Linked DNA regions of Homo sapiens: region 1 is linked to region 2. Evidence: fine-mapped expression QTL. A gene starts in region 2. The other region holds a variant in brackets. All regions are shown on one strand. Distances are between the middles of the regions.

What was found.
Region 1: its variant is fine-mapped to the expression of RAP2C in whole blood (TOPMed, PIP 0.96).

What each region holds. Positions count from the first base shown.
Region 1 is chrX:132,383,527-132,399,555 of GRCh38, forward strand. MBNL3 (muscleblind like splicing regulator 3) reads right to left here. Exons shown (of 9, transcript NM_001386889.1): 4 at 8,617-8,808; 5 at 7,321-7,557; 6 at 3,135-3,285; 7 at 1,137-1,172. All of the region lies in intron 2 of RAP2C-AS1 (RAP2C antisense RNA 1), which reads left to right. Among named protein-coding and RNA genes, the nearest start is that of MBNL3, 97 kb to the right of the region's middle. The variant T/C (reference allele first, on the strand shown) is at 9,535.
Region 2 is chrX:132,215,103-132,231,131 of GRCh38, forward strand. RAP2C (RAP2C, member of RAS oncogene family) reads right to left here and starts at 4,345. Exons shown (of 6, transcript NM_001271186.2): 1 at 4,268-4,345; 2 at 3,130-3,239; 3 at 2,814-2,910; 4 at 1,894-2,704. The coding sequence starts at 2,166. It overlaps RAP2C-AS1 (RAP2C antisense RNA 1), which reads left to right and starts at 3,405. Exons shown (of 3, transcript NR_110410.1): 1 at 3,405-3,735. RefSeq lists silencers at 2,335-2,774, 2,785-2,834 and enhancers at 4,267-4,336, 4,667-4,716, 8,651-9,180.

The DNA of each region.
Region 1 (16,029 bases), 170 kb after region 2:
CATTTCTCAAACTTGCAGAAGTCTGTTCTAATTGTACACATTATGATTCAAAGGTATACATATTGTGCTCCTGTTGGTATTAATGGAAATGTTTATTAATTCCTACAGAAGACAGTCAAACCCTCAGTAACAGGGGCCTCACTTCCATTCCCAGGGTTCAGATCTCGCTATGTTAGTGAGTGCTGCTACTATGTGGTTGTCATTTTGAACTTTATTCTCAAGAAGCCTGTTAGTAGTGCTTTTGGGGCTCTGCATCTATTCTGGTCCACCAAGGTGACAAAGGTCAATTTGTTGCAAACTCTCAAAAGGGAGGGGATGGCCTGGATTGATGTGAGACGGTAGAGTGGGACGGGTTGGGATCATTTCTCCTTGCATAGAACAGAGCTATTTTCTCCTGGTCTGTTCCTTGTGCCCATGAGGACTGTAGGAGCTGTGAACTCCCCATTCCTTTCTCATGCTCTTCAGTATTAGTGCTGTATAAAATGGTTTAGAGATGGCTATCATATTGTGTTAGTGGCTAACAAAAGGATCTGTGTGCAACTGCTTGTTAAAAATCACGTAACACTCAAAGAGTCATTTTGAAATGATTCTGTTGTGCCTAGCTTCTGTGCCAATGGTGCTTCAGGCTAGAACACTACAGGATTCATTACAGAACACTGCAGAATCCTCTGGCTTTGCTGAACTCATCCTCTCGCAACATAGGAACATTGAATGCTTTAAGTCCTATAGATAACTTTTTCAGGTGGGAATTGTTTCATTGTACTTTACAAGTTATACATTTTAAGTATTTTACAATTTTTAAATAATACATGTTAAGCAAAGAACAAAACTGCCCAGTCTGGCTAGTTTCAAATATTGTAAAAGAAACGATTTTTTAATATTTCAGTTGCTGTTGTTAGGGTAGAAATAGAGAAATGACAGGGCCAGTATTTGGCCACAGTGGCAACCAACTAGGACTTGAGAAAGTAGGACTATTTTGATGCTACAAAGACATAAAACAGAAAGCACCATGTTAAACCTTAACATACTCAGAAAATTTCCAGCCACATCTTTCAGTCATTCATCTTTCATAGTCACAACAGAAAAACACATTTTTTCAGATTAGAAAATGTTGATAATTTTTGTAGAAAACCTACCAATATTTGAAGCGGGTGCCATGCACAGTATTGGCCCTGTACACCACGCAGAAAAGCGTGGAAAGTAAAAGAGATATTTGATTATTAAGGATTTACTGATAGAAATACATTTTAACAGAAAGATTATTTCTTTGCAATATCAATTACTCAGCACATGCAAGTCCAACAATCTCCCATGTTTACAATTACAGATTAGTTTTAAGGTCACAAACCCAGGTAATCAAAATAATTCTTGGATTCTTAGGTACAAAATCAGCTATAATTTTTCTTTAAAAGAATTAACTCACTTAAATTACATATTTATTGTGGACAAATACATCCTAAATAATTTTTATAATAAGAGAATTTTAATTTATTACACATATCATTTTCTAAATATGCTCCAGAATCTCGTATCTGGTGTCCGTGTTTCTATTTAGAGTATTAATCTGTTAACACTGTCTCCTCCACTGTCTCATAGTCAATAGGACTTGACTATGAATATATGGCAAAGAGGTTCCATTAAGAGAGACCTCTTAGCTGGACAGGCTTTTATGTTGCTACTAATTAAGGGAAAGGGAATTTTTCTGACATTTTTGCTTATGAAACTAGATTTTATGTTGGCCAAATCTGGCAAAAAATTCAAACTTGGAAACAAAGTAACTGTAGTATTAAGAAAAACTATGATGAACAGCATACATTTTATTATATTCAACCACCTTGACTAGACTTCCAGGGCTACTGAATTCATTCCACAGCTATAATACAAATTGGAAGTAGCCAAGGTAGAGTGATCTAATGTGTAGGTAAATTACCACAATTTTTGAAGAAAAAAAATGCTAGGAATAAAGTCATGTCAACTCATACTGGTTTTCTCTTTTACTCTGTAGACATTATGTGTGTTTTTCTTAGGTTGGGAGAAAATATCTAAATTATTAGATATCAGTAGTTACTTATTATAAGGGATGTAAGAAAGTGCTGAAGAATTCCATATTTCCTCTCAGAAACTATCATATAAATGTATACAAATTGTATAATTTAAATGATGGCATGAAGGACTGCTGTGGCTAGTAACTAAAGACTGGTGTTTTATGGTACCTTTCAAAATTAATTAACTGATTAATTTACTAGTTAACCAATAAGTTTTCTCAAGTCTGGGTATTAACAAGGATTTCTAAATTATTTTTTAAAACATATGTTATTTTCATTTAAAAATAGTTTCCAATCTTGGGCATTTACCATTGTGTCAAAAAAAAAAAAAAATGGAAAAAAAAAACTGCTGTACTCTCAATGGTTAGAATTTTCAATTTATTCCTAAGAGACTATATGCTCATTCTTAAACTACTAAACCACTGGAAGAAAATTAGTTTCCCCCCAATATATGATATCTAATTGAACAAATTTCTGGCTTAACATTTTCTGTTCAATTTCATGTAAAACAGGCTATTAAATATAGCTGAATGTAGGAGATAACAAAATATGCTGCAAAATGTCAGAAAATATAAACTGCTATGTATTTTATATTAACTGATTCAGGAGTTACAGGCTAAAACTATCTGTTTAATCTATATTATACTATATTATGCACTTAGGGTAGTTTTATTTTAACTACCTTTGGCATATCAAAGACATATTGACAACGCATTTCCATAATATCGAAGCTGGGAGTTTTTGCCTTTTTATTTGACAGCACTCTACTGTCTGTGACAGTGATACCTAAGAGTCAAGGAATTAGTTTGAGACTGAACCAAGTGAATTAATCATAAGCAAAAACCAACAAATGCTAAAAAGAAAAATGTTGATACTTTTTCCTAGTTTGATTTCAAACCATGAATTTTCATGAATTATAGAAAAACAAGTAGTTCTAGATACTAGCAGATAAGCATAACTTCCTTGTTTTATTTTTAATCAAAATACATGTCGACAGTCCTCCTATACAAGCTCTTTGAAAGCTGTTTTGCATTGTATACATTCACAACATCACCAAACTCGCTGCAGTGCCTAGAGCTGTGTTCTCACCTGCAGGGATAAATGCCGGCTGTGGGAGCTGCAGGTTAGTCAGAGCCTGTTGGCAGTGGAAAACAGTGGGATTAAAGACCGGGGTGGCACCATTGGGCTTTTCCAGTGCTGATCTCTTTGGTATCAGTTGCAGTGTACCAGGCTGCAGGGCCTGTGGGGGGAGAGATGGTACTAGTACTAGAGAAAGTAACAAATGTACTCAAACCAAGCAAGCACCAGTCATATAAGGTATTTCCTGGGAATCCTCCGTAAGGGTATGCATTGGGCAAGACACTGGATAAGCAGTGGCCCCACAGCAAGGTAACCAAATGTAGAGATAAGGGGGTTCACAGCCGTGTACAGTGGCTCACGCCTGTAATCCCAGCACTTTGGGAGGCTGAGACCAGCAGATTGTTTGAGCTTAGGAGTTTGAGACCAGCCCGGGCAATATGGCAAAACCCCATCTCTGAAAAAATAGAAAAAGTAGCCAGGCATGGTGGTGCATGCCTGTGGTCCCAGCTACTTGGGAGGCTGAGACAGGAGGATTGCTTGAGCCCAGGACGTCAAGACTGCAGTGAGCTGAGACCACACCACTGCACTCCAGCCTGAGTGACAGAGCAAGAGCCTGTCTCAAGAAAAAAAAAAAAAAAAAAAGAGGTAGTCCAACTACATGAGCAGTAGTGCAAAACAAAAAAAAATGCAAAAAAAAAAAAAGGTTTTCAACTTCACTAATTTAGACCTCATTTGGGCAGGATATGACAGAAAGCTACTACAGTAAACAATCATTTATAATTAATATCTCAGGGATACTCATCTATGAATCTATAAAAATGAGATTAGCAGAAGCAACAGATATAGCAGGAAAGAGATTTCTGCCTGTTAAAACTCCAATACAGATCTAGGACATAAATGGCATATAGGTGATAAAACAGATGTTGGTAGATCAGAGTCTGACACTGTCACCCCATAAAATAAAATCCAGTTTATACAAAGACTTCAGGTTCAAGTCCTATAATTATATATTTCCTAACTAACATGTAAGGAAAAAGCAAATGAATATTTCCTCCCCCACGACCTACCTCACGCAGGTACTATGTAGATAGTTAGCAAAATATATGCAGTTCTTATTTATAGAGGCTTGCTGTCCATTTCGGTATGTACCATTTGCTTTGTTAAGTTCTTGTAAGGTTTAATTCTAAAACCTATTAGCATTTTTAAACCATCCTTTCATGTCTACAGTTCTTTCAAAATCCCACTGTGCTTATAATACTCCGTGAAACTTGCCCCTGGATCAGATTCTTTGGAGAAGTTTAACATTACTTTACATTTTTTTTTTCTCAGCAAATTGCACGTTACTTAAAAAACATGTCCCAGCAACAACAATTAGGTATGCTCCAAATTCTTAAGGAAACAGGAATGCTTGTGTTGAGTAACTATCCTACCATGTGTCCAAAAGGGTAATGCCATGACCTCGTTCCTGTGGATAACAAAGGTCTCAAGGTATCTCTATTTTCTTTTGGGAACTCTACTGTCAGTGCACACACTGTGACAGATCTGCTTTTCATTTCACCTAAATAAAGAAAAGCATGCTAGAAGAGTGAGATAAAATAAACTGAGTAGCTTTAGAGATATAAAATTTCCAAATTTATCCCAGCAGACCAGATGGCAAAGGTCAGTACTAAAATCATAAACCATAAAACAAAATCTATCATTTCGAATGCCTTTTATTACCATTGGGAGAAAATGGTTTTGCTGAACATTTTAACTAAGACAGAAGACCTACTTATCTGGTTGTTAAAAAGATTTCCCTTTGGTATAAACGGGGAGTGTCCCCTTCTCTCTCTTGAAAGTTGGCAGCATGGTATGATCATCAGAACCAGTTATGTTCCCTAGTAAACTACAAATTGGGGTGAAACCTAGATGAACATTCAACAGGTAGACGCTGGTAAGGTAGTACTGCTTGTTTATTTATGGCTGGGGTTTATCCTGATGGGTCAGTGCCCAGTTCCAATTGGGTGGTGATTGTACTATTAAACTCATAAACCTGCCGAAGAGGTGTGAGACTGTGGATGAACTAAGTATCAACCCTTTATGTCTCTCTCTTTTTTTTTTTAAATACAAGCTGCTTTCTGTGAACTCAACCTGAGCTATATACATGAACAAGGTAAAAATGTCTCTTTTATAAAGCATGTCCACTATGAATCCTTAAAAATATAAAAAGCTTGAATTTCTTCATGAAGCCCTCCTTTATTTAATCTTACCTCTATCAAATTCTTATGAGCCAACTTGATCTCACTGCTAAGACCCTGCTGTGATCAGTTACTTAAAAGGGAATTTTATATTGATATTCACAAGTAACAATTGAAGGCCTATGATATAATATTTAGCTCTCTACGTGGAAATTTGAGGCTGACTTGTAACCTATGCATTCTATCAAACACACTCAAATAATCAGAAATGGACAGATGCATATGAAGCTATTTTCATAGCTTATAATTACCCCTTCAAAAGCATTTAAGACAAAAAGAATTTGGTAAAGTCTTTTTTAACATTCATTAACAGATTATGTTGTTCAGATCAAGGGAGAAAGTAAGTTTGTTCTACTTTGGTGCTCAGATCCTTCACGATGTAATGAGTTCAGTTCTGACAAAAAGTGGAGCCAGTCCAAAAATGGTACTGTGTCCTTGAAACCATAAACTACCAGGAAAAGGGAGCAATTTGCAGTATTTGGCTTAGACAGGAGACATGAGAGTCACTCTCACTTGGAATAGGGACTGACTTCTTTTGTGAAGTTCCAGTTGCAGCAAGATAAATTTCAACTCGGTATGAGGAAAACCTTCTTAATAGGGATGTTTGAAAATAAGTGTCTCTCTGTTGTGAATAGGCAAAGTCTCTGTCATGGGAGTCCAAACTATGAATGTTTGTGAGGAGATTTAGCTCACAGTGCATCTCCTGGGCTTCAGGGTCATGTCAGTGCTTTTTCCACACCCAGGGAACATGAGGTTTCCTGTGGGTTTTGTCCTTTACTGGGGCTGTTATGCCTTATTACACAAGGAAAGGTCCAGGGAGAAAAAGAAAGACATAGCAAGCAGCACATCAAAACAACGGACAGCTGTGGCAAACTTAAGTCACGAGAATTCCTGGTTCTCAGTGATCACACTGCAGTGTTACACAAATATTTTTCCTGCTTCCTACCTTTCAGTATTACTAAGCAGCACTAACTGTTCCCCCAAAACTGGCTTTCTACAGCAACTTAAAAGTCAGGACTCTGGGCTGCGCACGGTAGCTCATGCCTGTAATCCCAGCACTTTGGGAGGTTGAGGCAGGAGGATCACCTGAGATCAGAAGTTCAAGACCAGCCTGGCCAACATGGTGAAACCCGGCCTCTATAAAAACTACAAAAATTAGCCAGAAGCAGTGGTGCACGCCTCTAGTCCCAGCTACTCAGGAGGCTAAGGCTAGAGAATTGCTTGAACCTGGGAGGCGGAGGTTACAGTGAGCTGAGATCACGCCACTGCACCCTAGCCTGGGCAACAGAGTGAGACTCCATCTCAAAACAAACAACAACAACAAAAAACACACAACCACCCCCACAAAACAAAACAAAACAAAACAACAACAACAACAAAAAAAAAAAAAAAAAAAAAAAAAACCAAAGTCAGGCCTCTGCTCCCAACCACGTAGAAATTTCCCCCCAGACTAAGCAGGCTGCTGTCCTTGATACTATGCCTCTAGAGAGGAAAAGTGGCCTTAACCTTTAGGAAATTACAACCTACTTAATACCCTATCTTTTAAGTGCTGTGTTTTTGAAAGGCATTAAGGATGTTAGTAGCAAAGGGCCCATGAAAGTGGCTCACAGAGCAGAGGCAACTTTCTGCCTCTCTAGGATATTGAGGGTAGTGAAACTATAAAAGCACTCAAAAATAACTTACTGTTTAAATTATATAATTTACCCTTACTCTGAAAATGGGAGAAAGAGCACAGTAGGTTAAAAGCATTAGTAAGGCTTTTAAATAATTATCTTTAGAAAATCTTAGTAAATAAAGTAGAATAAATAGGTTCTTTCTTTTCCAGCTTATAACCTTGACTGTTCATATTAAGGTCCTCTCATGACCATCCATGAGTATGGTTACAGGATATTAGACAAATTGAGGAATATACAAAGCATTTACTCTGAAACAGGCCACAAGTGCAGGCCTTTTCTTACCATGGCAGAGGCAGCTGAATGGTTCATCTGATGATGAGCTGCCTTGAGTCTGGCTTGCAAGTGTGCAGGAGGATGAAAGTACTTGCATTTCTCCCGCGAGCATCGACCTTTGATGTAATCCATGCAGATTGTCACAGTATTATCACTCGCTTCAATCATGGAAGCATCAGTAGGGTGAGCATAGCGGCAATCATTCTCCCCACGGGTACAATTTCCACGCTGAAATTCTCGGCAAACCTTAGAACACACACATGCACATACACACGCATCACACTGATGACTGGAAGCTGACTGGCTTTTATTTATTTTGCTAGTGAATGTAACAGTAATTATATATACATTGAATATATTATGTGTGAACAAATCTAAAAAGATAAAGAATAATGTAAAGCCATATTCACTATGAGATATAAACAGACAGAATTTCTATTCCCAGAAAAAAATTCTATTCTCCCCAAAAGGAGGTTGTCCTTACATTGAAATAAAAATGTTTAAAAAAGTATTACTGAAAACCAGTTTTAATTCTCCAGTTAATACACAGCCTTAAGCATAATTAGTGTTTTTTTAAGTCCAAGATGAGTCTTTATCACACCATAATGCACTGGTTTTCCAAAGTCAACTTGTGAACCATAACTGAGTTATATGTACAATCAGATTATATTACAATACATTACTAGGCATTTAAGCGGCTGCAAATGGAGCTGACTTTGTAAGGAAAGACTAGTTATTTCAATGTACAAAGAATAACAATAGAAGAATGAAGGACTTCAATAAATCAAAAAGCTGTTTGAAATTTCTTTCAGATTTTCTTTTCTTAGGCATCGGGGTTATTTACTGCCTAGCACATCACTCTCAAAATGGAGAAAAAAGTTGAGGCACTATGAGACTAATTTACCTTCTGTGTTCATATAGCTTTACATTCTGCAATCGTAGAGAGTTATATTGTCTACTTTTTTCCCACTTTGATTATTCTAGCAAGTAGAGACTCATTAACAAATATAGTAATCTGTTTCTGAAAGCTGGAGCCTAGGTAAAAGGAACATTCCCACAGAGGCTTCCTGTGCCATCGCACAGTCTATGGCTGGGTACACTTAACATATTGTTTGACCTACCATACAGGTGAATCAATGCACTTTATAACAAGGTATGATTGCAGTACTAAAATGTTTAACAACCCTATAAGCTAAGAAATTTGGGTTCTCTTATTTAAAACAACACACTGGGCTCTGAGAATACTGCTTTATGTGTAAGGTTAATATCTATTCTACAGGTATTTATATATATGTTCACAAATACCTCCAGTTTATCTGAACGCATCAGTTTTGGGCCAACAGCTCCTGGCATTGCAAGAGGTGGGTTTCCAGGAATCAGAACAGGTGTATTTGGTACAAGTTCTGCAGGAACGAGGCCCATCCCAGGATGTGGTATGTAAGGATTGAAAGCCATGGGAGGATTAGCTGGAATTGATGGAGTCATAGGAAAAGAACCCTGTATGTTTAAAAGAGAAAAAAAGATGTTAGAGGTAAAGATTCTTCCTGTCATTACACAAAGAGGTATTCTTTCAGAAACATCAAAATTACTTATGCCACATCAAAATTTACTATTGTTTTCTTCTGATTTATTTTTAGCCTCATACTAATTCCCATAGAGGAGTTGCTTTTAAACCAACAAATCTCTTTACGTACTAACTTTATTGGTAAGCTCATAAAATAAGCCACATGATTTTAACAGTCATGAATTATCCAAATTAAATCTCACTGCTAGTCTGTTCCAAATGTGTTTCCTCCAACTCTTTCTTTATTCCCTAAAAACCATGTCACCAATGACATTACACATATGGACAATCTTCTTTGTTTCCTTACACAGGCATGGCCTTTGCATTCAGTCCCTTTCCTTCCTCTTTCCTCTTCACCATCAATACTGCTTGGCTGTAAGGCTGCCTGTCCTACCACAGGCCCCACCTGTACTACCAAATACTGGCTGTGCTTCTGTCTTCCTGGCCCACTGACAATTATGGAACACAGCAAGGAGTTGAGGAAGAAAGTGATAAATTAGAAAAAGTGAGTGCTTTAATATCTACCTAAAATGAGTTTAGTATGGTCCATTATATTTTGTTATTTTTTTAAATCAGAGGTCCTGTTTTTTAAATTTTTATGTGTACATAGTAGGTATCTATATTTATAGGGTACATGAGATATTTTGATACAGGCATAC[T/C]GTGTGTAATAATCACATCAGGGTAAATGGAGTATCTATCACCTCAAGCATTTATCATTCCTTGGTGTCACAAACACTCTAATTATACTCTTTTAGTTATTTTTAAGTGTACAAGAAATTATTGTTTACTGTAGTCATCCTAGAGGTCCTGTTTCACAAGCTAATCTGACTTGCCTAGCCTTGTCTTTATCCAGGGGGCCAGATGATATTCATAGTTCAAAAGAAGGCACTAGAAATGCTACAAGAATCCCTGTTAGGCAGGAAGAGATAAGATAACAGGATTATATGGTACACAAACTAGAGTAACTTGTAAAAAAAAAAAAAACCTCAGAAATGCAAAAAGCTATTACTGCTTTTTCTATTTTCAAAGATCCTGGATTCAAAAAGTTTAATATGTGTATTTCCTTTATTATCTGTTGCCATATTATTTATCACTTTGCTGTTTTCCAGTTTGTTCCACATGTGGGTATCTTTTCTTGTCAATGTGGTTTTATTCCTTTGATAGTTCTCATCTCCCCTATAGTACCCAACACTTAGTGAATGACTGGTTGACAGATATACTCAATGATACATTTTAAAAGCTTAATGAATGAATAATAAATCATGACTAAATGTAGTATATTTCTAATAATGACTCTACAAGTTAGTTATTGTGAAACTGGTGGTGTCTCATTGTGTATTACTAATTGCATGTGTTCCTTCTTGCTTTATAAAATTTTTTCACTTGAAAAAACCCCCGAATCTGTTGCATTTGCCAAACTGTGCCCATACCTGCTAAGTCACATTAATAGAAACAAGTCTAAATACAAATTGTGGAATATAAAGTGAAGGGCAATGTATACTCATTGCCTCACCCCCACACAGACTTGAAATTGTCACCCACACAGCATTCCAAGAAGACTCTGTTATAAACCATATTCAGCTTAGAAGGAAGCACTCCCCCATTAGCATTCTACCTTAGATGAGTTTATCAAATTAGCTGATTGGGACATTAGGAAGGGCAGAAAGAATCTGGCACCAAAAAACTGGCAAGACTCACGAGGGTGAGTAGGAAAGACATGGTTGCCAAGAGCCTTAAGTGGAAAGGGAACGCCAGGTGCCAGGAAAGATGATGGTGTAGTCAGGAGAAGGACTCTAAAGTCTGGGGGCAAATAGCCAAGGGCTGACCCAGTCTAACTAGCTCTTATGATGTAATAGACTACAGGAATACGGGATACTTGTCATGGAATGAGATGTGAAGCTCAGGAACTAGCTGATGTGACATGATTTTATATAATGAGAAGGAAATCTTCTGGAAACAGCCACCCAGGCATGCTTCCGCAATAAGGCAGACTTTATCAATGTAATGATTCATAGTTGTCTCAAGATCACCAAGAATCTCTGATGAGAAAGAGTCCATTTTTGAAGCACACGATAGTGCTCTTCACTTGACTTTTCGTTGTCTCTGACTTTCCTGGTAAATTTCTCACTGAAGCCACCAGCCCATTCTCCTGCATACTTTTTGCTCTTGCCTTTTACAAAAATGAGCAGGACCATTATTGTATCTATTAATTTTTGAACTGAAAGAAAGACCTGGAGGTGGGTGAATTTTCCAGATTAAAAAGTTATTAATCACTAATAAATGCTGATCAATCAACAATATTGAAGCCTAATGTATTTGAAAGCAATGCTTTCTGTTTATGGTAGCTTTTTACTTCTGTAATTTTTTTCTTTTCTTTTTTGAGGTGACTCACCAGGGAAATTCTCCTAGCTAAGTTCTGCTTTCTTTGGAATACTTTTAAACTTTCTTAGGTTTGTTATATGCTCCAAGTGTATGGAAAAAAAGGCTATAAATTAATGATTGGTCTACATATAAAATGTAAAGGGCTTACTGAAAGTATTTAGATTTTTCTAAGGTTTCACCACAAACTATGCTATCTTTAGATCTTAAAATTAGTATCCTAGCTCTTATAACTATTTCCTCCTTGAGTATGAAATGCATTCTATAACACTGTTTATTGAGAAGAAGCAAGCTATCCCATTCTCAATACTGGGGCAGAGGCAGGAACTCCTGAGTGGCTTATTTATTTTCAGTTGGACATTTCTGTTTTCTCACCACCACCTCTGCCCCAGGGTAACTACTCCATTTCATGAATTTGAACATTCAAGGGCTTAGCGTTGACTAACAGCCATGGGTTAAGTCAAGCAGCCTGCAAGCTCAGAAGCTCAGCTTTAATAAGCAACTTTAATCCTGTCTCTATATATATCTCAGCCCTTGATGTCAGTTGAGCTAACATGAACCTATCTGTGGGTTAATTTTTATTGTAAAGGAAAAGGTTTTAACTATACTGACTCTGATTTATCTTTACAGCCTGAAATGGTCTGAACACTTAAATGTTTCAGATATTTAAATTCCAACCTAAATTATTTACTAAATACTTGAAAAGAGACGGCTGTCCCTCCCATAACCAGGTGTAAATTTTCATCTTTCTGAGTGTTGTCAACCAGCAAGAATGGTGGTGGCAACAGACTTTATGAATAAGATCACCTGACAACTATTTATCCCCATGTCTCTAGCAGTATTAGCTCCTACAGTAGAAATTCCCATGAGTTCCCAGTGACTTGCAGATTGCTTAGGAACTATCAGACACTCAGGAAATGTGTCCTAAAAATTAACGAAATATCTAGACAACACTGGCTCCTAATCTTTTTTGAGTCCAGGACTTCTCCAAGAGTCAGATAAAGGCTGCAGACTCTGTCCACAGAAAAATTCATGTATGCAAAAAATGTTGCTTGTGATCTCAGCAAGTTCAAGGACCCCACGACACTCACCCCTGGTGTGGGGTTATGAACTACTTACTGGTTAAGAATCTCTGTTCTAGAGTAAGGCTCTGCAAACTAGGGCCCATAAGCCAAATTCAGCCTGCCTGTGTTTTTGTATGGCCAGCAATCTAAGAATGTTTTTTACAGTTTTAAATGATTGAAAAAAATAAGAGAATAATATTTAGTGAAACATGAAAATTATAGGAAACTCTTATTCCAGTGTCCATCCACAAATTTCATTGTGCTCATTAGTAGAGCTGTATTACAAAAAATTGTAGATATTTGTTTCCTCTCTTGTTATATAAGTACCTATATAATACCCTCAACTTTGCATCTTGAACCTCACAGCCTAAAATATTTATATTTAGCCATTCACAAGAAAGTTCACCGACCTTGGTTCTAAATGATTTCAAAAAATGAAATTCTCCAACGCTTTCAGGAGTAAAGCACCAAATATATATTCATATATATTCATATATATTCATATATATATATTCCTATATATATTCATATATATTCATATATATATTCCTATATATATTCATATATATTCCTATATATATATTCCTATATATATTCATATATATTCCTATATATATATTCCTATATATATTCATATATATTCCTATATATATTCCTATATATATTCATATATATTCATATATATATTCATATATATATTCCTATATATTCCTATATATATTCCTATATATATTCCTATATATATTCCTATATATATTCCTATATATATTCATATATATATTCATATATATTCACATATATATATTCACATATATATTCACATATATATATTCATATATATATATTCATATATATATTCATATATATATTCATATATATTCATATATATATTCATATATATATATATTCATATATATATTCATATATACATATATATATTCATATATATATTCATATATATTCATATATACATATATATATTCATATATATATTCATATATACATATATATTCATATATATATTCATATATACATATATATTCATATATATATTCATATATACATATATACATATATATTCATATATACATTCATATATATATTCATATATATTCATATATATATGAATATATATGAATATATATGTATATGAATTTAGTATTTGTAGCAAGATTCCACAAATTGAAAATGTTTGGCTTTGTAAACCAATACTAAGGTATTCACTAAAATGTTCTTTTACATAGTTACTAATATTAGGATTAGGATTTTTAACTATTTGTTTATAGAACAATCACTACTCCGTGACTAAGAATGGGGAAATAGTAGTTGGAATCCTGTAAAGGTAAAAATTTTAAAAGCCACCACAGATTGCTCTTAAAGGATTCTGAGGCAATGCAATTCAATGCAAAACTATGCCTCAAATAAATGTCTAGTTTACACACACTTTAGGAACAGTGACTTAACAGGTTATTTCTCAAGCTAGTATAAATAAATGAAAATTAAATGTTATGCCAAATCAATCTTTGTGTCTCCTCAATAGCCTAGATCTATTTGTAGTTACCTCAAAAATATCCAAGATCAATTACAATTATTGTTGGATGAATGTAAAATATTTCAAAATCCTGGCCTAAGGTCAACAGAATAATCGGGGCCTTCCATCTCTGAGTTCCTGTCTAGAGTTGAATGACTAGATATTTTCTTTTACAGAAGGGTAAACATTTGGTAACAATTTGTTGACCCAATTTTAATACAAGAAAAATAGCACTCATAAATTTTACTAGCGTCATAATATCTTCATTTTATTGCTCATTTGCAAGCATTTATATAATATAAAAGGAAGGCTCTTTTTACGGTCATCATGCATATTTCTATCTTTAGATAATCCCAAAATGCACTGAAATCCATAATTTTAGTTTCCATCAGACTTCACTTTCACACAGAGTACAATTGAATAATCTCTCTTTCACAGTATTTGCTTGGTCATTTCCACACTCCTTGAGTAATGTTCCGTGGGGACTGAAGTGGCCAAAATGCAGGCTGCAGGAGACCCACATAACCTCCAGACTAGTTAATTAGTTTCTCAATAATTGAGAGTTAACTTTAAAAACAGATGCAAGCTGATAGTGGTGTTTAAGTACTAATCGTACTTGTTAATGAATAAGTCCCCATGGCTCTAGAGAGAGCTAAGAAAAAAAAAGTTCATGGGTCAAAAGTGAACCATTGTCCTCACCTAGACCTGGATTTTCTGATCTTATTAATCAGAGAATTCTCCAAGTAAGAGGAACCATTGAAGGCAGGCAGGTTAGTTGAAAGATCAATAGGTGATTGTGAGTATAAGAGGTATAAAGAATAACACAAATGAGAACACAAGTCATGGTTCAGAGCTACCCATATTTGCTGGGAGGAGAAATACAACAGCAGGCCAGGAATCATAAAGGAGTACCTAAACACAGATCAGCACATCACCTAGGAAGAGAGCAAATGATTGACACTTATAAGCAGGGTAACTTTGACATTGTTCCTGAGGAGGTGAACAGGAATTGACCTAAAAATTTGTTGGTGACCACCGTGTAATAATAATGGCAATTCAATTAACTTTAGTATTCTAGTAGGAAACAAAGATTATTTTTTAAAAAATCAAGTTTGTGGCATGGATTGTAGTAATAGTATCATGAGCATCTGTTTGTCTCCAAAGTCATCAATTTGTATACATTGAACATGTGCAGCTTTTGTGTGTCAATCATACCTCATTGAAGTAGTTCAAAGAATTAAGTGGTTATCTAGTTTTAACAAAGGGTATAAACAAAATGTGGGTTTTTGGGAGATAAATAGGAAGAACTGAGCAAAGCAAGGAACCCACAGGAAACCTGGAGACTATTTATGAACATGTCAGTGAAAGTTAGATAAATAGGTAGGCTAAGAGTTTAAAATTATCAAGGGTTTGACCAACCACAACCACCACCACCACCACCATCAAAACAACACAAACCAAAACAGAACCTTGCATGGCTAATAGAAAGATAATTCTATGTTGAAAAAAGAAAGGCCCAAAGCTACAAAAATATGAAGAATCAGGTACAAATCAGAAATTAAGGGGACCAGAAAATATTCATCCAACATCTTACTTTTGTTACATAACGAATTCCTAGAGGGTAGAGTTTGTTTCTTGATCATCTTTTTATCCACCCTTTACTCATTTAAATACCTGTCACAGAGTATATGCTCAATACTTACTGAATTCAATAAAAAGGGATTCCTAAACCATTAATTAATTTTTGATTTACTAAATAGATCAACCCAATTTAAAAATCAGAGTGCAAAAAGAAGTAAAAGTAGTTTCAAAAATGGTGGCAAAGAAATTGAATAAATCCTTCAGTCTTGTTCTCCACTGAGGAAGACTTTAGGCAGATGGCTAGTCCTAAGCTGTCTTTTGATAAAGATATGAATTGCTAGATCAAACAGTATGAAAAGCACAGGGTATTTTATACATACATATGTACATATGTACATACATGAATCCCATATGTGTATGTATTTTTAAAATTGGAGTGGCTAAATCCATACTAGAAGGTACCTAATTAAGAGTTCTAAAAAAAAGTGATTTAGTGATACTATAGATAAAAATATGTAACTTTATTACAAAGTGTATAAAAAGTAATTTTTTATACACTTTGTAATACACAAAGTAATTCACACCTTTTTATACACAAA
Region 2 (16,029 bases):
TGGGAAGAAGTCATTTTTTTTTTTTTTGCCTGTGTTTGTTTTTACTACTTGTTTCCCCATGCGTATTACTTTTTCCAAGTAGTTACAACGAATTACAAAAGATAAGAGCGTTAGCAATTCTCCAGTAGCATCAGTTTTGGGAGGTGGGGGCAAGTATTGATTTAATACAATATTATAGACTTAATTATAAAAATCACCATTTTCGGTAATATTTCATAATTTTAAAAGTTTGCCTTAAATAGAAAATGTATGCTTAATTGGAAGTCATAGTAAGTACAGAATATTCACATGTGGGCCTACGGAAAAGCAAGGGACTATGAAAATCTATAAAAATATAGTTATTTGATATTTGCATCAATTTGGTTTGATAATATATCAACTCAGATTTCTAGGTTACGCTTATTTCCCATTGTCTTTATGGAAACATAAGTTCAGCTGAAAATCCAAACTTAGGGCATTTGGGCTCAAAAGAGTTTACACCTCCACTGAAATAACGGCACAGTTTTTCACTCCCAATTCATGTCTATAACACAAATGGATATAACAGAAATCTTATGAAACACCCTTCAAAAGACTCTCAGCCTCCAGAGAGTAAGCTGATAGAATAACAAATCTCCTGAGGATCCTTTAGGGAAAAAATGCCTGTCAAACAGCACCTTCAGTACTTTGGTACTTTCTGGGGGAAAATGCTTTTATGATACTATTGTTTGGGAATTTATGCCTACATAAAATGAATTTAGTTTGGTCTCAATAGCTTTGATTTATTTCCCCAGAATTTATCATCTTAAAAAAAAAAAATCCCTGAAGTTGTTCTATCAGGTTACTGGGAAAGTTCACTATAGTACTTTAATTTAAAATACTAAAGAAAGTGGAATTAGCACATTGTATTGGCTAAAGCACTTAAGGTCTCTTAAGTAAGCTACATTAAGTGCATACCTTTAAATGCAGAAAAAATATATCCATTTCCTAAATCAATGGAGGTCAATATAATGGGTCAATATGAGGTTATTCATTTTCAAGGGATAAATAGAAACATACATTGCATATCCTAAAATAACGTTAAACCTTCAGTCTGTTTCCCAGTGAAGGACAGGACAGATTTTCTAAGAGATTGGACCACATCCAGTTTGGCCACCCAGCCGGAGTAAGAAATCTGCACTTGTTCAGTGTTCCCAGACCCACGTATTTTCTGTAAATACAGGCAATGTTACCAGAAACAATTTGGATCAACTGCAGAAAAAGAGTCATTCCTGATTTTTGTTGGTTATTAATTCTAGGTACTAGTCTTTTCTATTAGTAACTTTTCTTCCTACTACACGCCCCAAGTAATTAAGTAAAATGCCTAGAAGGCAGGTCTTGAGTTCTTCGTCTTGCAACACTAAGATTTATGAATCTAGTTGAGAAACTTGAGAGAGAAGGGGAGGGCGGCGGGAGGGGGTGTTGGGGGGTGGGAGGGGAAGGTGTGGGTGGGACAGACACAGAGGACTTATCTGTGCAACAGATAATCGGCTCCAAATAATTTTTTCAAAGTGCTCTATTTACCCGAGATTATTTGTTAGATGTTTTGTCGTGTAAGTTAATCAATACTTGTTGAATTGAGCAAGCAACTTCAGAAGGTTATATTCCAGGCGAAATATACACAGACTGACATTTCTTTTTCACTTTTCTTTCACTTAAAAATAGCTTTAAAATATTTGTTGACGCTTGTTACTTTTTACTACGCTCTATAGAAACAACCCGATAGTCTTCCATGGCAGGAGTAACCTCAAAAATGCGTCATGTCTAACTTTCAAAAGCAAAGCACAGTCATTAATGCACGGTTCAAGCAACCCAGAAGTCGATGTCGGATTACCACACCCCCTTCTAACAAATTACAAGACTTGGTTTGGTTACCTGAAAAGACTGTTGATTAACCAGGCTATAAACCAGGATGAAACCTTGGCCGTTTTTGATGTAGAGATCTCTCATGGAGGCAAACTGCTCAGTTCCTGCGGTGTCCAGAATTTCCAGCACGGAGGGGGAAGAGTCCACTTCGATCTCTTTGCGGTAGAAATCTTCAATGGTGGGGTCATATTTCTCAATGAAAGTCCCAGTGACAAACTGCACAGTAAGGGCAGATTTGCCAACCCCTCCACTCCCTAACACCACTACCTTGTATTCCCTCATGAGTCTCACCTTCACCAACTCCTACCAGAGGGGGGGAAAGATCACCCCGCTAGCTGTGGCGCGGCTAGACGAGGCGGAAGGTGGGCGGAAATCTGCGAACTGGGGAGGAGAGTGCAGAGGAGCAGAGGGCCCAACCGGGGAAGAAGAGGAAGTTACAGGAGGGGGAGGGGAAAGAGCGTAGAGTCGGGGAGGGTGGGGAAGGGATGGTAATGCCCTTCCTATAGGAACTGCAGCCCGAGCAGGGGGCGTGGGGAGGAGGGCGAGCCTGGGAAAAGCCCGGCGAGGGTGGCGAGGAGGCGCGTGCCCCCGGGAGGGAAAGGGTGGGGGCTGCGGCGAGGGGACCCTGCGGCGAGGCGGACGTCGGAGGAGCCCGCAGCCCGGGGCTGCCCGGCACTCCTCCCCCGCCCTTCACACAAAGGGGCCCAGGGACCCCGCTTCCTGCTCGCGCAGCCCAGCCGGCTCAGGCCTGAGGGCTCCGTTCCAGTTACCGCTGCCCGGGCGGGTTTCTGGGCCCCGGCTCCCGCGGGGGTCGTCCGGCCTGTGAAGGGGAGAAGGACGCACATTACCCGGCTGACCCCCGCCCCGAACCTGCGGCGCCGGCCGCCGCCTCCCCCAACTCCCACCCGGATCAAGCTACTGCCGCTTACCCCGCCGTCCGCACCCGCCCGGCCGCCGGGGAGGCTCTGTCACGCCAAGGCCATGGCCACCCGCTGGCTCCTCTGTCTCTCCGCTGCCCCAGCGCTGCTGCTCGCCGCGGGGAAAGAAGCGGGGGCCTTCCGCGGCGGCCGCAGGGACTCCAGGCGAACCCACCTCTTTTTTTTCTCACCCACCCCCCACCCCCACCCCCACCCCCACCCCCACCCCCACCAAGCACACACCCGGAAGGGTTTCCCTGACACACTGGCTGAGGTGCCCCAGTTCCCCGAGACTGGACGGGATCACTTCCGGTGGGGAAAGTCCCACCTCTTCGGGGCGAGCCGGGTGGCGCTGGAGCCGCGCCCTGCTGAGCGAGCGAGCCGGCCGGGGACGGTTTCGGGTCGGGACTCCGGCTTCGGGAACGGGCCTCTGGAAACCTGCGACGTCAGTCCTTACCCGCCCGCGGCTGCCGCGGACCGTCCCACCCCCAAACCCGTAGAAGCCCCTCCGACCTGCAACCTCCAGCCGCCCGGCCCTAGGACTTGAGCGGCTCCCTGGCCGGTGCGGAACCTGCGGGCTAATAATCTAGCGACCGGGAGAACGCCAAACATCCCTGGACTAGAAGTTGCAGGGGAAATCAAACAGCCCAGAAAGTTTATTCTCCTTGCTGGTATTTCTTCCACTTGCTATTTTGCTGAGAGATGCATGCAAACTACCCTTAGACTTTCAGATGCAGTGCGTTTTACTTAGCCGTGCCTGACAAACACACAGAACTTTTACCGTCTGGTAGATCCGCCTTGACTTTACCAGCGAATACTAAAGTCACTTAAAAAAAAATCACAAGGCTCGAAAACAGCAGCATTAGAAGTAGACTTTATGGTACTCTGCTCAGCTATGTTCTCATTTGATTCCAACCACTACACGGCAGAAAAGGTAACCAATATTCAAGAAAGATTTGATTGGAAACGGTTTAGGCCTAAAGACTAATTTATTTTAATCGTTGATTATGTATAACAATTTGCTTGGCTGGCTCTTACATGCTGAAGTTTTGTTTTAAAGGCCATCCTATGTAGTCTTTGAAATTCAAAAGCAAGTAGTAACTCTGGTGTTAGATTCTAAGTTTCTATTTTTAGATAAAATTGTTACTTCCGACTATCTTTCCCTTTGCTAGCTTTCTATTTGTAAACTTTGTGTCGGATCCACAGAGCCCCAGGGCCAGGAGTCTAGGCTGTATTTTAGGTGTGTCACTTTCTTTTCAATTCAAGCATGTACCCAGAAACCTGCGAGACTCAGTGGCCAGCCTAGCAAAAATGACTCCAAATTCCCTTACTTACAAGCCCTAAATGGCCAAACTCTATAAAGAGATTTATTACTCAGCCTAAATTGTTGGACATTAGAACACAGGCGAATCATAGTAGTGTGAGGTCCCACTGTCCCTCCCTGAGTATTCCCCAATGTCACTTACAGTCTTCAAAGGAGAGTTTAGTTCAATTTCTCCTTGACCTCAGGCCGGTGCCATCTCTCCAGCGAAGTCCCCAGCTCTGGCTCCAGCTGGCCTGGGCCCTGTGTCGTATCAGAGGCACTGCCCTCTGCTGGAAGGGGTTTGGTCTGTGAGTTATGAGTTTCCCCACAGGTCACTGCTCCTTTCACACGTGCTGTTGCCTGATTTGGAGCTCTGCTGCTCATCTCCCTGCCTAGCTGTCTCCAGACTGTCTGGTGGGATTCACAGCCCTCCACCAGCCGTGCTTGTAACTGAGTCTGGAAATTCCTCTTCTGATCCAGCCAGTGTTGAGCAATCGTGGCAAGTCTTTGCTCTATTACTAAACTGTCAAAGCAAGGAGTTCTTTTTCAGGTCATCCCACCTGTTGGCAATTCTAATATCTCTGAATGTGTTGGTCATGCTTAGGAGAGAGTTCTTTGTTTCTCCACGCAGTGAAACATACTCCTCCCCTCAGTACAGCGTCCTGTGGGGTCACTCTCGTCAACTACAGTGGACAAATATTACACTCAGTCTAAAGATCCTTCTAAACTTTCTTAGGAAGGGTATTCATTACAGCATTGATTAGGAAATCAAACAATTGGAAGAAGCTTAAATGTCCTTCAGTAGGTGATTTTTAAAAGTTTCATAGCTCTCTATATCTATTATCTATCATCTATCTATCTATCTACCAACCTACCTACCTACCTATCTGTATTCACAGAATAGGATATTATGCAGCTACTTTAAAAGAGAAAAGCAGATTTGTAAGTGTTTATATAAAAAGATGGCCAAGATATATTGTAGGGCTGAAAAAGCAAGATACTGAACAAATGTCTAGTTGCTACTGTTTATGTAAAACGCAGGTGTGTAATAGTTACATAGCCATTCAAATCTGAAACAAAGTAATTATGGGTGAGGACTATTATGAAATGGCTTTTATTTCTCCATATTTTAATTTATAAACAATAATTGGGAAAAAGGAAGTAAATATAACTTTATAATATTTTTAAAGGAGGAACAAAAGAAAGTTGTTGATCTTGGTTTTGTAAAAAAAAAAAAAAAAAATCCTGACTGTCTAGGGGTCAGTGGACAGGTCCGCCCAATTTAAACAAATTCCCTACCCTTGCTTGCCCTCCCCAAACATCTCTATACTTAGAAAAGTATTTTCACATACATTATCTCATTAGACTCCTGTTGTTTGCTAGTGTACTCTCATTAAGCAATGAGGGTATAAAGAGCAAGCAGAAGAGTGCGGCCTGGCAGTTGAGAGCTAAGGCTCTGAAATGAGACAGAGGTGCATTAAAATTGCAGCTCCGCCACATTCTAGCTCTGTGTCCCCAAGCAAGTGATTTCACTTGTCTGAGCCTCTAACTCCTCACTTGTAAAAAGGAGATAAGAAGTTAACGTGAAAATGTAATGAGGTATTACAGGTAAAGTGCTTAGCACAGTCCCTTGCACATTATAAAGCCTCAATAAATGCTATTTGGTTTTTATTTAAAAGATTTAATGAATTGTTAATTTTTAAAAAATAGCAAACATGGGGGTAACAAAATTTTAAAAGCTCAAATATCTGCAAGTGGCACGAAAATAATAATTCAGTTACTCTTCACAAAGATATTTATTGTTAAAAGCTTCTTATGTTTTTCAGGGGGGAACATTATTCATATGTCAGTGTATCAATCTACCTTCTATATATATTTTTAAAAATTACTGTACTACAAAAGTAATCAACTGTACACACTATTTTTTACCTTGCTTTTTAAACTTTAATTAATTAATTTTTTTAAGACAGTGTCTCCCTCTGTTACCCAAGCTGGAGGGCAGTAGCATGATCATAGCTCACTGCAGCCTCAACCTCCTGGACTCAAGGGATCCTCCCACCTCAGCCTCCCGAGTAGCTAGGACTACAGGTACATGCCACCACACACAGCTAATTTAATTTAATTTAATTTTTTTGGTAGAGATGGAGTCTTACTATGTTGCCCATGGTGGTCTCCAACTCCTGAGCTCAAGGGATCCTCCCGACTTGGCCTCCCAAAGTGCTGGGATTAAAGGCATGAGCCACCATGTCTGGCCTTCTTAATTTTTATTTCATGGCTGTATCATAAGCTAATTAGCCAGCTCCCCTTTGAAGGACACTGATTGCTTCTAGGTTTTTGCACTAAACGCCTTGGACATATATCATTGTCAGTTAATGTTTAGGGTGAATTTCTAGTAATTCAATAATTGAAACAAAAGGCACTTGCACTTAAAATTCTTCTGGTAAGTATTGCCAAATTGTCCTTCAGAAAGGTCACACCAATTCACATTCCCACCAATGCAGTATGACCGTATCATTTTATAACCTCACAGTAGGTATTACTAATTTTAGCATTTTATAGTGATTGTTACTTGCTTTAGGGTATTTTCAGGACTAACAAATGCAGGGCAGCGTTTTAGAAGGAATTTGGACTTCAGAGCCAGACAGTCCTAACACTGCCCTTTTGCAAGCTACACCTCCATTCCTTCATTTGTAAAGTTGGGCATAATAGCAGTATCTAACTCATAGAATAATAAATGAGAAATCCATTCAAAGCATTTAGCCTTCCAAATATTAATTGCTCAATAAATAGAAACTGCTCAAGTAATAATTTTCTACTCCAAAGGCTTGAATATGGGAAGAGGGGAATGGGAGGACTTCTCTAGAGATCATGCCCTTGAGATTCACAACTTTTGCTTTAATTCTGCATCAACCTCCTTTCCAAAGTATTGCTCAGGCATTATTTTAAAGAACACAACCCATTTTTACCATAGTGTGAAGAAACCACAGTGTATGCACTATATGCAGATAATATAAGTAATAGGGCCATAATCTCATTTTTTGAAATTAGTTTGGCACAAGTTTAAAGTGCTGGATGTTTGCTACAGGCACCAGTTGCTTACTTATCCCTTTCTTCTTTTCGAGTTGTTACCTCCTTCAGTTGCAATCCTTGGAGCCACCAACTGCCTGGGATATTTTACCCTAACTTCCACTCTCCAAATGAGCCGTCTTGCCTTCTAGGTCCTGGGAAAAAACCCATGGCTATCCATCTACTTTCTATACATGGCTATCTATTTTCCATCCAGGCTCTTCCCTTCTCTTTTGCTAGAAGTTGCTCTTGAATTACCAGAAAGCTTGAGCCAGTAATGTCCTCAGTCTTTGCCTACAGAAATCTTATTTCAATGCTTTAGGGACCCCATTGATATCAGCTAAATTGTCCTGGATTCTTTCTAGCTCCTACCCTCTAAGATTCCAATCTTCTCTTTCAAATCCTGCCTCCAGCTACACCAATCATTAGTTAATCATTAGTTCTGCATGTCAGGCTCCCCCAGTACACAAAACCAATTTTATACCTTTATTATTATCTTTTTTCTCATGAAAATAATGTTATTTGCAAAAAATTATAAAAGTATAATCCCACTACCTGGAGAAAATTGCTATTAACATTTTAGTGTCTTTCACAATTTTTTTTCTGGAGAGAGTTAAAGAACATTTTTTTTTTGTAAACTAATAATGGGTTCATATAAATTTGTGAATGGCTTCTTTCACTTACTGAAACATCATGTCTGCATAAAGCACTAAAAAATACTCATGTATCCCTCATCCCCTACATGAGTAAGCCTTTTTTCCTATAGCTTTAGCTTTCCTACAGCATCAATGAGAATTTAATCACATTCAATTTTGCTCACCTGGAATCCTTCATCCAATCAATGAGATTTCACTAGAGGTGCTGCTGACCACAGAGGACACTACCCCAACCTGGCCAGGCAGACACTCCTACAAAGTCACAAATTTGTGCGACTGCTGACAAAGTTAGTTTCTCAGAACTGAGAGGCGTACTAAATAGGGATGTGTTTAAAATAGATCTGAATTCCTTAACAATTTTTCCCTCTCCACTTCATCCTTGATTTGAAAGATAGTAGTTAGAAAATTATTTTGTAATCTATCAAGTACCAAATAAATTTAAAGAATTAGTACTAATAATAACTATACTCCCATACTCCTAATATATGTACATCAGAATCACCTGGAGGTGATGTGAACCACAGACGGCCAGGTCTCAACCCCAGAGTTTTTTATTCAGTAGGTCTGGGTCAGGATCTATAATTTGCATATCTAAGTTCCCAGATGACACTGTTGCTGCTGGCCCAGGGACCACATTTTAAGCACCACTGTTCTGTAAAGCGGTAGGACATTATTTGGGGCTTTCTTGCTTGATACTCATTAATGTATCCACTCATTCATTTATCACACAGTTATTGAATTCCTACTCTGTGCCAAGCACTTTACTAGCATTTTTGAGGAATATAGACAATACAATCAACATTACAGTATAGCGTGGCACATCCTGTGATACAGATATCGGCCAGGGTGTTATGGGAGACTTAGGAAGGGTATCAGGGAAGATTTCCTAGAGAAGGTGATTGGGCAGTAGGCAAGGAGGCCAGAAGAATCGGTAGGGGCTAGAACCATAGGGGAAAGCCTTGAGTAGTAAGCTAAGGGGTTTGACTTTTCCCCTGGAGGCTGTAGGAAGCCATGGAATGTGTTTTTACAAAGGTCTTAATTGCGGTATACAAAATCAGGGGCTAGCGACATCCATGCCAGGTTCAACCATTGGCTGTGCTGCATATGTAGCCTGAGGCAAGTTACTTCTTACCTTCTCTGAGCTTCTCTTTCATCATGTGTGAAGGGAAAATATTAATAGATCTACCTTATTTGGGTATTGTGAAGATTAAGTAAGAAAAAGTGCCTAAGTACCCATCATATGGTAGGTGTTTAACAAATGGTGATTATGATCAGGTTTAAGCCATAGAAAGAAATGACATGTAAGACATGCTTCTCAGGTTATTAAAATCCATTTGAAATTGCCAAGCTAGTCTCAATATCAAGGCCATATTTGATGTGAAGATTAAGTAAGAAAAAGTGCCTAAGTACCCACCATACGGTAGGTGTTTAACAAATGGTGTTTATGATCAGGTTTAAACCATAGAAAGAAATGACGTGTAAGACAGGCTTCTCAGATTATTAAAATCCATTTGAAATTGCCAAGCTAGTCTCAATATCAAGGCCATATTTGATGTGGTGGCAAGTCGGATGATTTAATCATGTAATGATAATAGTTTATCTTGTCTTTTGTTTTGTTTTGTTTTGGAGACAGAGTTGCTCTGTCATCCAGGCTGGAGTGCAGTGGTGCGATCTCAGCTCACTGCAACCTCCGCCTCCTGGGTTCAAGCGATTCTCCTGCCTCAGCTTCCCCAGTAGCTGGGGCTACAGGTGCATGCCAGAATCCCTGGTAATTTGTTGTTGTTGTTGTATTTTTTAGTAGAGATGGGGTTTCACCATATTGCCCAGGCTGGCCTCGAACTTCTGCGCTCAGGCAATCTACTTGCCTCAGCCTCCCAAAGTGCTAGGATTACAGGCTTGAGCCACCACACCCAGCCTGATGATAATTTCTTGATTACAGATTATTTGCGAGGCACTGTGCAAAGTGATTTATGCACATCATTTCATTTAATCCTAGCAATAACCTTAAGAGTTAGGTATTATTATTCCCAATTTTACAAACAAAGGAATTAAGGCTCAAAGAAGTTAGTTTGTACATAGTCGAACAGTTGGGTAGTGGTAGAGTTTGAATTCAAACCTAAGTTAGTCTGAGCCTATCTTATATTAGCCACCTTGTTCCACAGAAAGCAGTTTTGTTTCTTTGAAGGACAGGGCAGCGAATGGGCAGTGAGGCAAGGTTAAAGAATCTAGACTTTATTACCCTGTTTCTCTGCCCTCGAGTAAGACTGACTGTTCATACTGATTTCAAGTGCCCTCTGGAAACATGCCTCTATAACCTCCCAGGGGCCCCTTGACCTTGGATCTGTGGCACCTGGTACTGAACCTGAGGTGGTCATAGTTACTTTCCAAAGTGCTCTGGAACATTTACAACAAGGAGCCCCCTTGTTTTGACACTAGGACAATATTAGACTCTGTAAGAGGAGGCATTGGGGTAAGCCTAGTTATTTTTAATGCTGCTATTACTACTATTGTTTATTGAGCACTTGCCACATGTCAGAAATTCTGTACTTCAATCCTTACAGCAACCCTATAAGGCAAGCACATTGTCATCATCATCTCTAGTTTAGAGATGAGGAAACTGAGGCTCACACAACTAAGTTCACACAGCCGGTAGATGCAGATTCAAGCAGAAAACTCGTTCATTCATTTTTACAAACCTTGCATTTTCATTTCTTCCTTTGCCTCTGTACCTATAACACCTTCAAACACAGATGTAATCCTCCTGAATTCTTTTACTGCCCACAAGTTTTATTTACCACATAGTTTAAGCCCTATTTTTAATGATGTATATACAAATCGTGTTTCTCCTCAAAATTATTTCATGCCATAAAAAGTCACTCTTCCCTCCCTTTATTTACAAATTCATTCCTCTTTAGAAATGAGCACTTATAATAATTACATGCAAGGCCAAATTTTTACTGTTTAGTGTAAACCCATAATGTGAAATTGAGAATGGTTGAAAAGCACGGTTATGAAAACATCGTGGACTCCAGACTCATCCCATACAATTTCCAAGGGGAATTTATTCTAAGTACTTTAAAACTTACAAAGAGTTGAATTCTGAACTACTTGGGCCTCTATGCACTCTTAGCAATTCCCCCAGCAGGGAACCAAAAATGAGAATAGAAAGAAATTGCCTCAACATTGAATTCTTAGACATTTAGAAGGCCTGGAGTCTGAATACTTTAAAAGGCTGTTATTTAAATGTGGGAAATGATGTGAAAAGTATAATGTAAAGATAAGATAAATATTGTTTGCTAAAATAAATCATCGGGTTTTTTTTTGTCAAATTCATGGCAATTTTAAAATCCTGTTAATTCTATTTATTTTTTTCTTATTTGGAGCAGGTAGCTGAATATGCAGAGTTCTGGCACTAGGTGTCAGCAAAAGATTAAACTAAAAACACCCACTTTGGGTTTTTTTCTTTTCTTTTTTCTTTCTACACATATATATTTGAGACAGGGTCTCACTCTGTCACCCAGGCTTTAGTGCGGTGGCATGATCATAGCTCACTGCAGCCTCGAACTCCCTGGGCTCAGGTGATCCTCCCAACTCAGCCTCCGGAGTAGCTGGGACTACAGCCATGTGCCACCATGCCCAGCTAATTTTTTGTATTTTTTTTTTTTTTTGTAGAAATGGGGTATTGCTATGTTGCCTGGGCTGGTCTCAAACTCCTTGGCTTAAGCAATCCTCCTGCCTTGGCCTCCCGAAGTGCTGGGATTACAGTCATGAGCCACCATGCCCGGCCTAATCTTCCATATATTTCAAACTTTATAAAAATAAAAATAAAATACATAGTCTGGATTTTAAAAAGAAGAGACAACACACTTCCTTGTTGCCATGACAACGTCAGCATGAGAGAGGCTGGGTTGCTGCTGCTCAAGTAGGCACCTTACAGAGATCCTCATGGCTCAAGGAATTCAATGTAAGACCGTTTGACCTTTAGCATTGAATGGCTGGGGACTCAATTTTGTGTCAGCTAGAAAGCTGGGGAATGAGAAGTTTGGAGGGTTGGATGGGGTGGTGAGGTACACTCCTGTAAACCAGATCTTAAAAGTCTAAATATTAAATTATTTTACATAGAAATGTAGTGTTCAAGCCAACCACAGTGCTTGTGCAGACAAATTCAGTGGATGCTTTTCCCACATGACAAGATTAACAAAATTAACTTAGAGGCTAGCTTTGAGAACCCAGGCTGATCCTAAGGGTTTCTCAAACTTACTATGTTAATTTTAGCATATCATAGGGTTTTTTTTTCCTTTTAATATCCAGAGCTTTCCCCCCTTCTTGTGATTCCTGTCACAGTAAATGGTGTTACCATCCAGCAGTCATTGAAAGTAGAACTTAGGGTATTGTTTTAGGTCATTCTTGTGTTGCTAGAAAGAAATACCTAAGGCTGGGTAATTTATAAAGAAGAGGTTTAACTGGGTCAAGGTTCTGCAGGCTGTACAGGATACATGGCATGTGCATCTGCTGGCTTCTAGGGAGGCCTTGGGGAGCTTTTACTTATGGTGGAAGGTCAAGCAGGAGCAGGCAGGTCACACGGGGAAAGCAGGAGCAAGAGGAAAAGAGCAGGAGGTGCCACACACTCTTACACAACCAGATCTTGCAACAACTGACTCACTATAGCAAGGACAGCACCAAGCCATGAAAGATCTGCCCCCATGATCCAATCACATTCCACCAGGCCCCACCTCCAACACTGGGGATTACGTTTCCACATGAGATTTGATGGGGACACAGATCCAAACCATATAAAATATCACTCTTAACTCTTCCTTTATCCTCATTTCCTATAACCAAACAACCCATTAAGTCCTGCCAAGTCTACCTCCTTAGTCTTTCTTACATCCGTCATATCCTATGTCTGCTCTAGTGTGTAGAGGGACTGGAGAAACATTTGTGTGACAACTCTTTCCTGAATGCTGTAATAGCCTCCTAAATCGTTTGTATGTCTCTGGTGTTTTCTGCATACTTTTACCAGTGTTATGAAACAAGTCTGTTTGAAACAAGTCTAACTACATATTTCTGCTGATTTCAACAACTCTCTATCAGAAAAAGCCCAAGTTTATACGCATGAAATATAAGGTCTTCTATATTCTTATTCCTGCCTACCTTCCAAGCACATCTCCCACCTTCACATCCTTTATGTTCTAGTACAAATAAAATCATCATGGTTTCAGTGAATTTGCACCCAGTCTTATGGCTTTAAATACCATCTTACATACTGCAGACTCCCAAATTTACATCTCCAGTTCAGACTGCTCCCATAGTTCTAGATCAGGGGTCCACGACCTCTGGGCCATGGGCCGGTACCGGTCTGTGGCCTGTTAGGAACTGGGTCACACAGCAGGAGGTGACTTGTGGGTGAGGAAGCATTACCGCCTGAGCTCTGCCTCCTATCAGATCAGCAGCGGCATTAGATTCTCATAGGAGCATGAACCCTATTGTGAACAGCGCATGCGAAGGATCTAGGTTGTATGCCCCTTATGAGAATCTAACTGCCTGATGATTTGACATGGAACAGTTTCATGCTGAAACCATCCCCTGCTGTCGCCCCCCACCTCCCCACCCTCTATGGAAAAAATTGTCTTCCACAAAACCAGTCCCTGGTGCCAAAAAGGTTGGGGACCGCTACTCTAGATTCATACTTATACTATAGTTCCATTTGTATTACTCAGACATCTCAGATTTAACATGTCCAATGCTGAATCTTGATAACCACCTCTCCTCAGAAATGAACACATGCCTCTCCTGCAGTCAGTCTTCCTTTCTTTCTCTTTCTTTTTCTTTCTTTCTCTCTCTTTCTTTCTTTCTCTCTCTCTTCCCTCCCTCCCTCCCTCCCTCCCTCCCTCCCTCCCTCCCTCCCTCCTTCCTTCCTTCCTTCCTTCCTCTCTCTCTCTCTCACTCTCTCTGTCTCTCAGACAAGATCTTGCTCTGTTGCCCAGGAAGGAGTACAATGGTGCAATCATGGCTTACTGTAGCCTTAACCTCCTGGGCTCAAGCAATCCTCCCACCTCTGCCTCCTGAATAGCTGGGACTACAGGCAAGCGTCACCATACCCGGCTAATTTGTGTATGTTTTGTAGAGATGAGGTCTCATTTTGTTGCCCAGACTGGTCTCGTACTCCTGGGCTCAAGCAGTCCTCCTGCTTGCACCTTCTGAAGTGTTGGGATTACAGGCATGAGCCACCATTCCCAGCCTCCCTTCTGCAGTCTTAAAAATCTCAGTAAATGGCAACTCCAGCTTCCAGTTGCACAGACTACACTCTTCCAGTCATCCTAGAGTCTTCTTTTCCCCTTATGCCATACAATCCAACCCATCTGGAGATACTGAAGTTCTTATCTTCATAATATGTCCAAAATGTGACTATTTCTTACCACACCCACTGCTAAGAATCTGGCCCAAACCACCATTTTCACTTTTCTGGATGATTATTGTATTCTTCTAATTGCTCTTGCTGTTTGTGAACTTAGCCTCCTTCAATCTATTCTCAACGCAGTAGCCAAACTGATCCCATTATAGCCACAAAATCCTACAGTAATTTCTCATCTCACTCAGAGCAAAGTCAAAGTCCTTACAATAATCTAAAAAGCACTACATAATCTGGCTCTTCATAAATGATAGATATACTCTTACACTAGCCTCTGTACTTGCTGTGCCATCTAGAACGTTCTTCCCCCAGATTCTCAGTTTCCTTCCTTTCTTCAGCTGTTTTACTCAAGAGCTCCTACTCTGTGTAACATTGCACCCCCTCCTCATGCAATACCTTCAAGTCTTATTTATTTTTTTCTCATTAGCACTTACACTTTTCTAATGTACTATGTTCTTTAGGGATTTTAATATGTTTCCCCTATTACAATGTAAACTCCACAAGGATGGGTACTTTTGTAAATTTTGTTCACTGAATATCCCATGGTCTAGAAAAGTGCCTGCAACGTGGTAGGTGTTAAATAGTGATGATGTTATTAAACTGTTTACACAGTTCTGTACATATTTTATTTGCATATGCCTTATATATTACCTCTGCCCAGAGGGCTTTCCCCTATCTTCATTTTTCCCCGCTATGGATTGGCAGCATTCTTTTTTCTTAAAAAAATCAGCTTTATTGAAATATAATTTACACACCACATAATTCATCCACTTAAGGGGTACAATTCAATGATAGTATTATGTTACAGAGTTACGCAACCATCACCACATTTTTTTTCTTCAAATTCTATTTTAAGTTCTGGGGTACATGTGCAGCATGTGCAGGTTTGTTACATAGGTAAACATGTGCCATGGTGGTTTGCTGCACAGATCATCCCACCACCTAGGTATTAAGCCCCGCATCCATTAGCTATTCTTCCTGATGCTCTCCCTACCCCCACCTTCCCCTCTGAGAGGCCCCAGTGTGTGCGTCACCACAATTTTAGAACATTTTTATCACTTCAAAAAGAAGCCAGGTACTCTAGCTATTGTCTCTCTATCTCCATTCCTGCAGCCCTAACCAACCACTAATCTACTTTCTGTCTCTCTAGATTTGCCTCTTCTGGACATTTCATATAAATGGAATCATATAATATGTGGTTTTTTGTGACTAGCTTGTTTCACTTAGCATAATGTTTCTAAGCTTCATCCATGTGATAGCATATATCAGTACTTCATTCCTTTTCATGGCCAAATAATATTATATTATATTATATTATATTGATATACCACATTTTGTTTATCCATTTGTCAGTTGATGTGCAATTGGGTTGCTTCCACCTTTTGACTATTATGAATAAGACTCCTGTAAACACTTGTGTACAATTTTAAAATGTGGACAAATTTAAAATGTGTTTTCATTTCTCTCTCTCTCTTTTTTTCTTTTTGTTCTTTTGAGACGGAGTCTCACTCTGCTGCCCAGGCTGGAGTGCAGTGGCATGATCTCAGCTCACTGCAACCTCCGCCTCCCGGGTTCAAGCAATTCTCCTGCCTTAACCTCCAGAGTAGCTGAGATTACAGGCGTGCACAAATCATCCCATCCCCTAGGTATTAAGCCCAGCATCCATTAGCTATTCTTCCTGATGTTCTCCCTCCCCCCACCCATGCGTGGCTAATTTTTGAATTTTTAGTAGAGACAGGGTTTCATCATGTTGGCCAAGCTGGTCACAAACTCCTGACCTCAAGTAATCTG